2 linked regions of the Homo sapiens genome follow. The protein of the gene in region 2 purifies or fractionates together with the protein of the main gene of each other region. This does not show direct contact. Each region holds a gene or a part of one and is shown on either strand. Other genes may lie near its edges.

Region 1 (3,500 bases), on a different chromosome or scaffold from region 2:
TGAGCTCACAATGGCACTCAGCCCCTTCAGTTGGCAGGTCAGGGCTTTTCTTAACTAGTGCTTAACTAGCGATTACAGCTCATAGTAAGAACAATATTTTATAATCTAACACACATACATGAAAGAAAAGGATGCGGATGTAGGAGGTGGAAGGGAAGAGGGCAGAAGGGGTCTTTGCTTTCCCCATGGGGGACCACATTCCCTTGATACGAGGTCTCAGAGTGAGTGACCAACCCAGCAGCCTCTTCCTTTAACCCCTCCTAGACATGCGTAGCCTAAGCAGGTGACCCCCAACCCCCGGGCACTTGGCCCATTGCCCTCTACCCATCTCTGCAGGTCCTATGTGGCAGGGGAGCCCCTAGGGGAGCTGGGGGACAGCAGGTTCTTTGAGCTTTCATTCTATCCTTGGACACAGTCCTCCTCTCAGATGCTTCCTTGTCCGGGGGGCTTTGCTCAACCCCTAGCTGCTGCCCCAGAGCATTCATCTCCTAGTGCAGCACAGCTGACAGCTGGGGTGGGTTGGCAGGGGAGCAGCCTGTGGGATACTCTTCGATCTGCTTTCAGAATGCATCTCCAGCAAGAACACCTTCAGCTGGAGCATCTCCAGCCCAGGCATCTCCAGCTGGGACACCTCCAGGCCGGGCATCTCCAGCCCAGGCATCTCCAGCCCAGGCATCTCCAGCTGGGACACCTCCGGGCCGGGCATCTCCAGCCCAGGCATCTCCAGCTGGTACACCTCCAGGCCGGGCATCTCCAGGCCGGGCATCTCCAGCCCAGGCATCTCCAGCCCAGGCATCTCCAGCCCGGGCATCTCCGGCTCTGGCATCACTTTCCAGGTCCTCATCCGGCAGGTCATCATCCGCCAGGTCAGCCTCGGTGACAACCTCCCCAACCAGAGTGTACCTTGTTAGAGCAACACCAGTGGGGGCTGTACCCATCCGATCATCTCCTGCCAGGTCAGCACCAGCAACCAGGGCCACCAGGGAGAGCCCAGGTAAGGGGGATGCTGTAGGGAAGCCACGAGAGATGGGAAGCAGCCCATGGGCAGGGAGGAAATCTCAGAGCCAGTGTGCTCTGCTCTCATAGCAGACAACGATGCGGGGAAGGGGAGGTAGGGGGGTGGGAAGTGAGGGACCTGAGGGTGGAGGCAAAAAGGAAACATTACATGAAAACCTGAGACAGTGGAAAATGAGGGGCAAAGGGGGTAGGTGATAAGAAGCCAGGACTAACAAAGCAGCTTGTCACCCTGGAGTCTGCACAACCCAGGTCAGAGCACCGGTTTCAATAGCAAGGTCTCCCAGTTAGTCACAGGGTTCTCTCCTTGTGCTGTCCTGTGGGTCTGCCTAAGAAGCTGGGGTCTGCAGTGGAGCAAGGTCATGATCAGTGGGCCCATCTGTGGGTGGGGGAGGAAAAGGAGAGATTCTGACCAGGTGTGCAAGTCCATCCCCAGCCTTCCAAATTGTGGGTTGTGTGGTTTAGCTACTAGGGAGTCAGAGAGGTTGAATAGGCCTTGGGGACTGGGTCTTCCCTTAAGGAATCAGTGTTCCTGCCCACTCCGATGCTGCCCTCCTCCCATCCCAGAATTCAGACTGTCCCCACCACCACAATACACACAGGCCTGGATGATACGTGGCTTTGGAGGATCACTCGAAGTTTGGGGCCCATCCCACAGCCTTGCCCTCTCCAGGGTGGGTGAAGTGCTTTGGTATCAGACCCACTGCACTGGAATCCCTACTCTGCCACTAACTCACCAAGTAACCCTGGGCAAGTGATTTCACTTCCACGAACCTCAGTTTCCCCATCTATAGAAAGGGGCCTAATAAGACTCTGCTCATGAGGTTGCTGTGAGAATTAACACAGGCAAAGTGCCTGGCTGGCCCAGAGGAGAGCACAGTAAAAGATCGCTGCTGGTGCCAGGCAGGGGGAGCTCAGTTTTTGCATTTTCAGATGGGACAAAATTCATTCATTCATTCAATTGACTTTGAGCCCCATAAAATCTCATTCCAACTTCTGGGGTGGAGTGGTCCTCACGGGGCCCTCCTGGGCCACAGTCTTGTTTCCCCCACCCTCTCCATCTCGTCGGACTCCTCTCCAGCCTCATATTCCCCTGCTGCCGCCCTGCTCCTAGGTACGAGCCTGCCCAAGTTCACCTGGCGGGAGGGCCAGAAGCAGCTACCGCTCATCGGGTGCGTGCTCCTCCTCATTGCCCTGGTGGTTTCGCTCATCATCCTCTGTGAGTTGAATGGAGGGTGCAGGGGTGGGTTCTGGGCACTGCTGGGCAGAGTGGGACCCAGGGATGGGGGCAGGCAGGGGAGACAGGTGTGGGGAGCACCCACTCACCCGGCTACTGTGTCCAGAGAGGGACACTCCTGCAAATGGCCTTGGACTGTGCTGCCCCCGGGGCCCCTGTGGGGTATCCAGGTTAACAGTGTGGAAGTCAGAGGAACCTGAGCTTGGCTCTCATCTGTGCCACTTACTATGCAGCTTACTTGGGCAAGTTAGTTAACCACCCTGAGCTCAGTTTCTGCATCTTCAGATGGGACAAAATTCATTCACCCATTTCATTACTATGTGTCCCGTAAGTTCTCATTCCAACTTCATTAGATTATGAGGAATAAATAAGACAACAGCACAATTCCTGGAACAAAATCTACAAATACTAGCTATTAAAAAAACACACATGAAAACACTGATTGGAAAAAGTCTGTCAAGGATATTCAGTCAATGGGATGACGTGTTCAGCATTCAGGGGTTCAGGCCCATTCTCTTCAGCAAAGATACCCAGGCATGCCCCAGGGCTCTCTGCTCAGAGGTCCACTATGAGCCCAGCACAGTGGGAAACTTTAGGCAGCGCAAATGTGCATGTACATTATTCTGTCCTGTCCTCAGAGAGATTACAGTCTCCTGGGGGAATAGCTGGAAATTTTGAAGGGCAAATGCATTTGAGTGTGACTATGAGGAGGGGATGACAGCTGTGTGGGTTGGATGCAGGGGATAGCTTCTTACAGCTGTGGGGCCAGATGAAGACCTGGAAGGTGGGACAGCAATTATGCCCAGCAGGGCATCTGAGCGAATGAGCAGCCACAGAAAATGTGGGAAACCAGGTGGCAAGGACAGCATGGGGGAGAGGAAGGGACCCGCCTAACCAAAGTGGAGAAGGAACTATCAGGGACCTGGGGCCGTCTGTTTGGTTCAGCAAGGCTGGGCCATGCTGTAGAGAGCTTTAAACCCCAGGCCAAAGAGTAAGGATTCTGTTAAAGAGGCAGCACCAGTGGTGAAGGGTGGAGTGGACCAGCGTGTGGAAACGTCTGCTGGCAGGGCTGCTGAAGGGGATTCTGAGGGAGGGGCAGTGTGCTGGCAGAGCAGGCTTTAGTGCCACACAGACCCTGGCTCTGCCACCGACAGGCTGTGTGAATTCGACAAGTCCATTAACATTCTGAGCCTCAGTTTCCCCACCAGTCTGACTGGGTGGGGTGGTCTTTGTCATAATGCACATAAAG
Region 2 (3,500 bases):
ACATATTTGAGGGCTCAAGCATTTTTCAGGGCCCAGCTCTGTTGCGTGCAAAATGGATCAGTATGTTGCTTTCAAGGTGGAACATCTATTGTAGCTGCCTAAACCACATAATTTGAGGGGCACAGATGCCCCTCTTCACCCCAAATATCTTGCTTAGAGTTGCGGTGCATTTAGACTGTGCTTTTAAGGCATTATCTCCACAAAGCTGGTGTAGAAATACAGATACGTGACCTTACCTCAGTATTTTTTCATTATCACAGTAACATGGATGAACTTGCCAGATGAACAGGAATTCAGCAGAGGGTCGAGGGATGAGAAATCTTAAAAATTTAATTTGTATTTTTGGTGTGGAGAAATGGAAACGGTCTAGAATGTAGGGCAGTTGTCTGAAAAGGTCTAGAGGGACCAAATAGCTGGGAGAAGTTTGCCCCAAATGGTTAAGGTGGGTGCCAAGGTGCCACCTTCTCTGACCTCACAGTTCCCCAGCTCAGCTCTGATCCCCAGGGACCAATGAGGTGCCAAAGGGTAAGGGCTCTTTGGAAGGAATTAACGAGGCTGGGAGAAAAATAGAGAAATGATGGGGGCCCCTTACAAGAGAACTTACGAGTATAAGAAGAAGGCAGTGGGGACTCAAAACTGATCAAGTCATTTGGTTTATATGCAAGTGCCCTCAGGGCCACTGAGGCACCTGGCAGAAATGCCCATGCCCAGTGCTTTTTTTTTTTCCTGAGACGGAATCTCGCTCTGTTGTCCAGGCTGGAGTGCAGTGGCACAATCTCGGCTCACTGCAACCTCCACCTCCCAGTTTCAAGTGATTCTCCTGCTTTAGCCTCCCAGGTAGCTGGGATTACCGGTGCCCGCCACCACACCTGGCTAACTTTTTTTTTGTATTTTTAGCAGAGACAAGGTTTCACCTTGTTGACCAGGCTGGTCTCAAACTCCTGACCTCAGGTGATCCACCCGCCTCGGCCTCCCAAAGTGCTGGGATTACAGGCATGAGCCACCGTGCCCAGCCCCAGTGCTTTATTTCAGCAAGAAACACTTACTAAATTCTTACTGTGTGTCAGACTCTATCTTAGAAGCTGGAAACATAACAATGACATGGACTCTGAACTCATAATTTCTAAACAAAGGAACATGCAGATAAATTTTTAGCTTGTGTTAATGCAACCTGGCATGTGAAAATACCTATGAAGGCTGGACACGTGTCATGCCTGTAGCTGGAACTCTTCAAGTTAATTGCCTTATTTTCCTGGCAGGAAACAGCTTATAACCACACACATGACTTGAGCCAGGAAGTCAGCTTCAGCTTAATCAATATTTAGAGTGTGATGTGTTGCTAATCAGTGTTGGTTTTGTGCATAGGAAAGGTAGCCACGACTCGTGGTGAATCAGCTGCCCACAGGTCTGCTACAAGCCACCGGATGCCAGCTTCCTTCATTGCATGGGTGCCTCAAAGCACCTTCTTGAAGGGTTTAGACCATGTTCTGCACAGGCCATGCAGGGTGATTTTGAGGCCCTCTTTGGGGCCAACACACCCTCATTAACTTAAGGAAACATTGCCCCACCCCGAAGTTTCTCTTCTCTTGTACTCCAGCTGTCATTCAAGCTTCTCCTACTTGTCAAACAATCCATCTCAGTCCTTAAAATTTGATCTCTTTGCCTAGCTTAACTTCATGTTATCCTCTGACTTAGATCTTTTCTGAAAGAAACAATAGCAAAATGTCAACACTCTCCACCAGGGAACCTTTTAGAAAAATACAGAATCAAGCCCCATCAACTACACACATATGAAATGATGCCCAGTTGAGCTATTCACCCCGTTTCTCCTATATGAGAACTCCTAACAAAGCATATCTTCTGTCACCTTTTGTTCTTCAAAACTCTATCTGGGATAATAGCTTGATAATTGGCCAGGCGCTGTAGGCTCATGCTGTAATCCCAGCACTTTGGAAGGCCGAGGTGGGTGGATCACCTGAGGTCAGAAGTTCGAGAGCAGCCTGGCCAACATGGTGAAACTCGGTCTCTACTAAAAATATAAAAATTACCCGGGTGTGGTGGCACGTGCCTGTAGTCCCAGGTACTCAGGAGGCTGAGGCACGAGAATCACTTGAACCTGGGAGGCAGAGGTTGCAGTGAGCTGAGATTGTGCCACTGCACTTGAGCCTGGGCGATAGAGGGAGACTCAGTCTCAAAAAAAAAGCTTGATAATTTAGAAAAGCAGTTCGCAAACTATAGGCCTGTGGGCCTGTCCAGTCAGCTGCCTGTTTTTGTAACCAAAGTTGTATGGGACCACGGCCACACCCATTCAGTTATGTGTTGTCCCTATGGCTGTTTCAAAGTGTCCCTGCAAAACCTAAAATATTTACCATCTGGCTATTTTTCTTTTCCCAAGAAAGTCAGCTGACCTCAAATTTAGAATAGCACTATCCAGTTGAAATACAATGTGAACCACAAATTTCAAGCCACATATATCATTTTAAATTCTCTAGTAGCTATGTTAAAAAAGTAAAGAGAGGCCGGGGGCAGTGGCTCACACCTGTAATCCTAGCACTTTGGGAGGCCGAGGCAGGTGGATCACCTGAGGTCAGGAGTTCGAGACCAGCCTGGCCAACATGGCAAAACCCTGTCTCTACTGAAAATACAAAAATTAGCTGGGCATGTTGGCACATGCCTGTGATCTCAGCTGCTCAGGAGGCTGAGGCAGGAGAATCGCTAGAACCCGGGAGGCGGAGGTTGCAATGAGCCGAGATTGCCCTATTGCACTCCAGCCTGGGCGACAGAGCGAGACTCCATCTCAAAAAAAAAAAAAAAAAAAAAAAAAGGTAAGAAGAGCAGGCATAATGAATATTAATGTATTTTATTTAACTCAGTGTATCCAAATATTGTCATGTCAACATACAATTAATATAAAATTTATTAATGAGATATTTTGCAGCCCTTTTTTTTATACAAAGGGTTTGAAATTCAATGAATATTTTACACTTACAGGACATCTCAAATCAGACCAGCCACATTACAAGTGCTTAATATGACTTGTGACTACCATGTTGGATAACATATGTCTAACACCTATATACCTTGGGGTAACTTTTACTGCACCTGAGACTTTGAAACAGGTGAAAATGAAATAATCTTCATATAAGTATATGGAGAGTTTTTTTGAAACAGAATTTGAAGGGACGGCTCTGTGGAGAGTACACGGTGAAATGTGTATATGCCTTCTTATTTTTATTTTTATTTTGGAGGGGACAGGGCCTTACTCTATTGCTCAGTCTGGAGTGCATTGGCACTATCATAGCTCACTGTAACCTTGAATTTTGAGGCTCAAGTGATCCTCCTGCCTTGGCCTCCCAAAGCACTGGGATTACCAGCATGAGCCACAACACCTGGCGTGTATGTATGTCCATTATCCACAATGTTATAAGCATGGACCATCAAACAAAACTGAAACCACACTCAGGGTGCTGCATTAATTAATGAAGAAAAGTGGACTGTTG

What was found. Proteins that work in one complex are often made in the same cells at the same time.
Region 1: the proteins of SEL1L3 (region 2) and TMPRSS13 purify together in Homo sapiens (co-immunoprecipitation; one large-scale study listed by IntAct). This does not show direct contact.

Annotation. Positions count from the first base shown.
Region 1 is NC_000011.10:117,915,903-117,919,402, reverse strand, and holds part of TMPRSS13 (transmembrane protease serine 13), read left to right. Parts: intron 1-564; coding exon 565-994; intron 995-2,128; coding exon 2,129-2,233; intron 2,234-3,500. UniProt on the Homo sapiens protein: Serine protease. Cleaves the proform of PRSS8/prostasin to form the active protein. Cleaves the proform of HGF to form the active protein which promotes MAPK signaling.
Region 2 is NC_000004.12:25,852,989-25,856,488, reverse strand, and holds part of SEL1L3 (protein sel-1 homolog 3), read left to right. Parts: intron 1-3,500.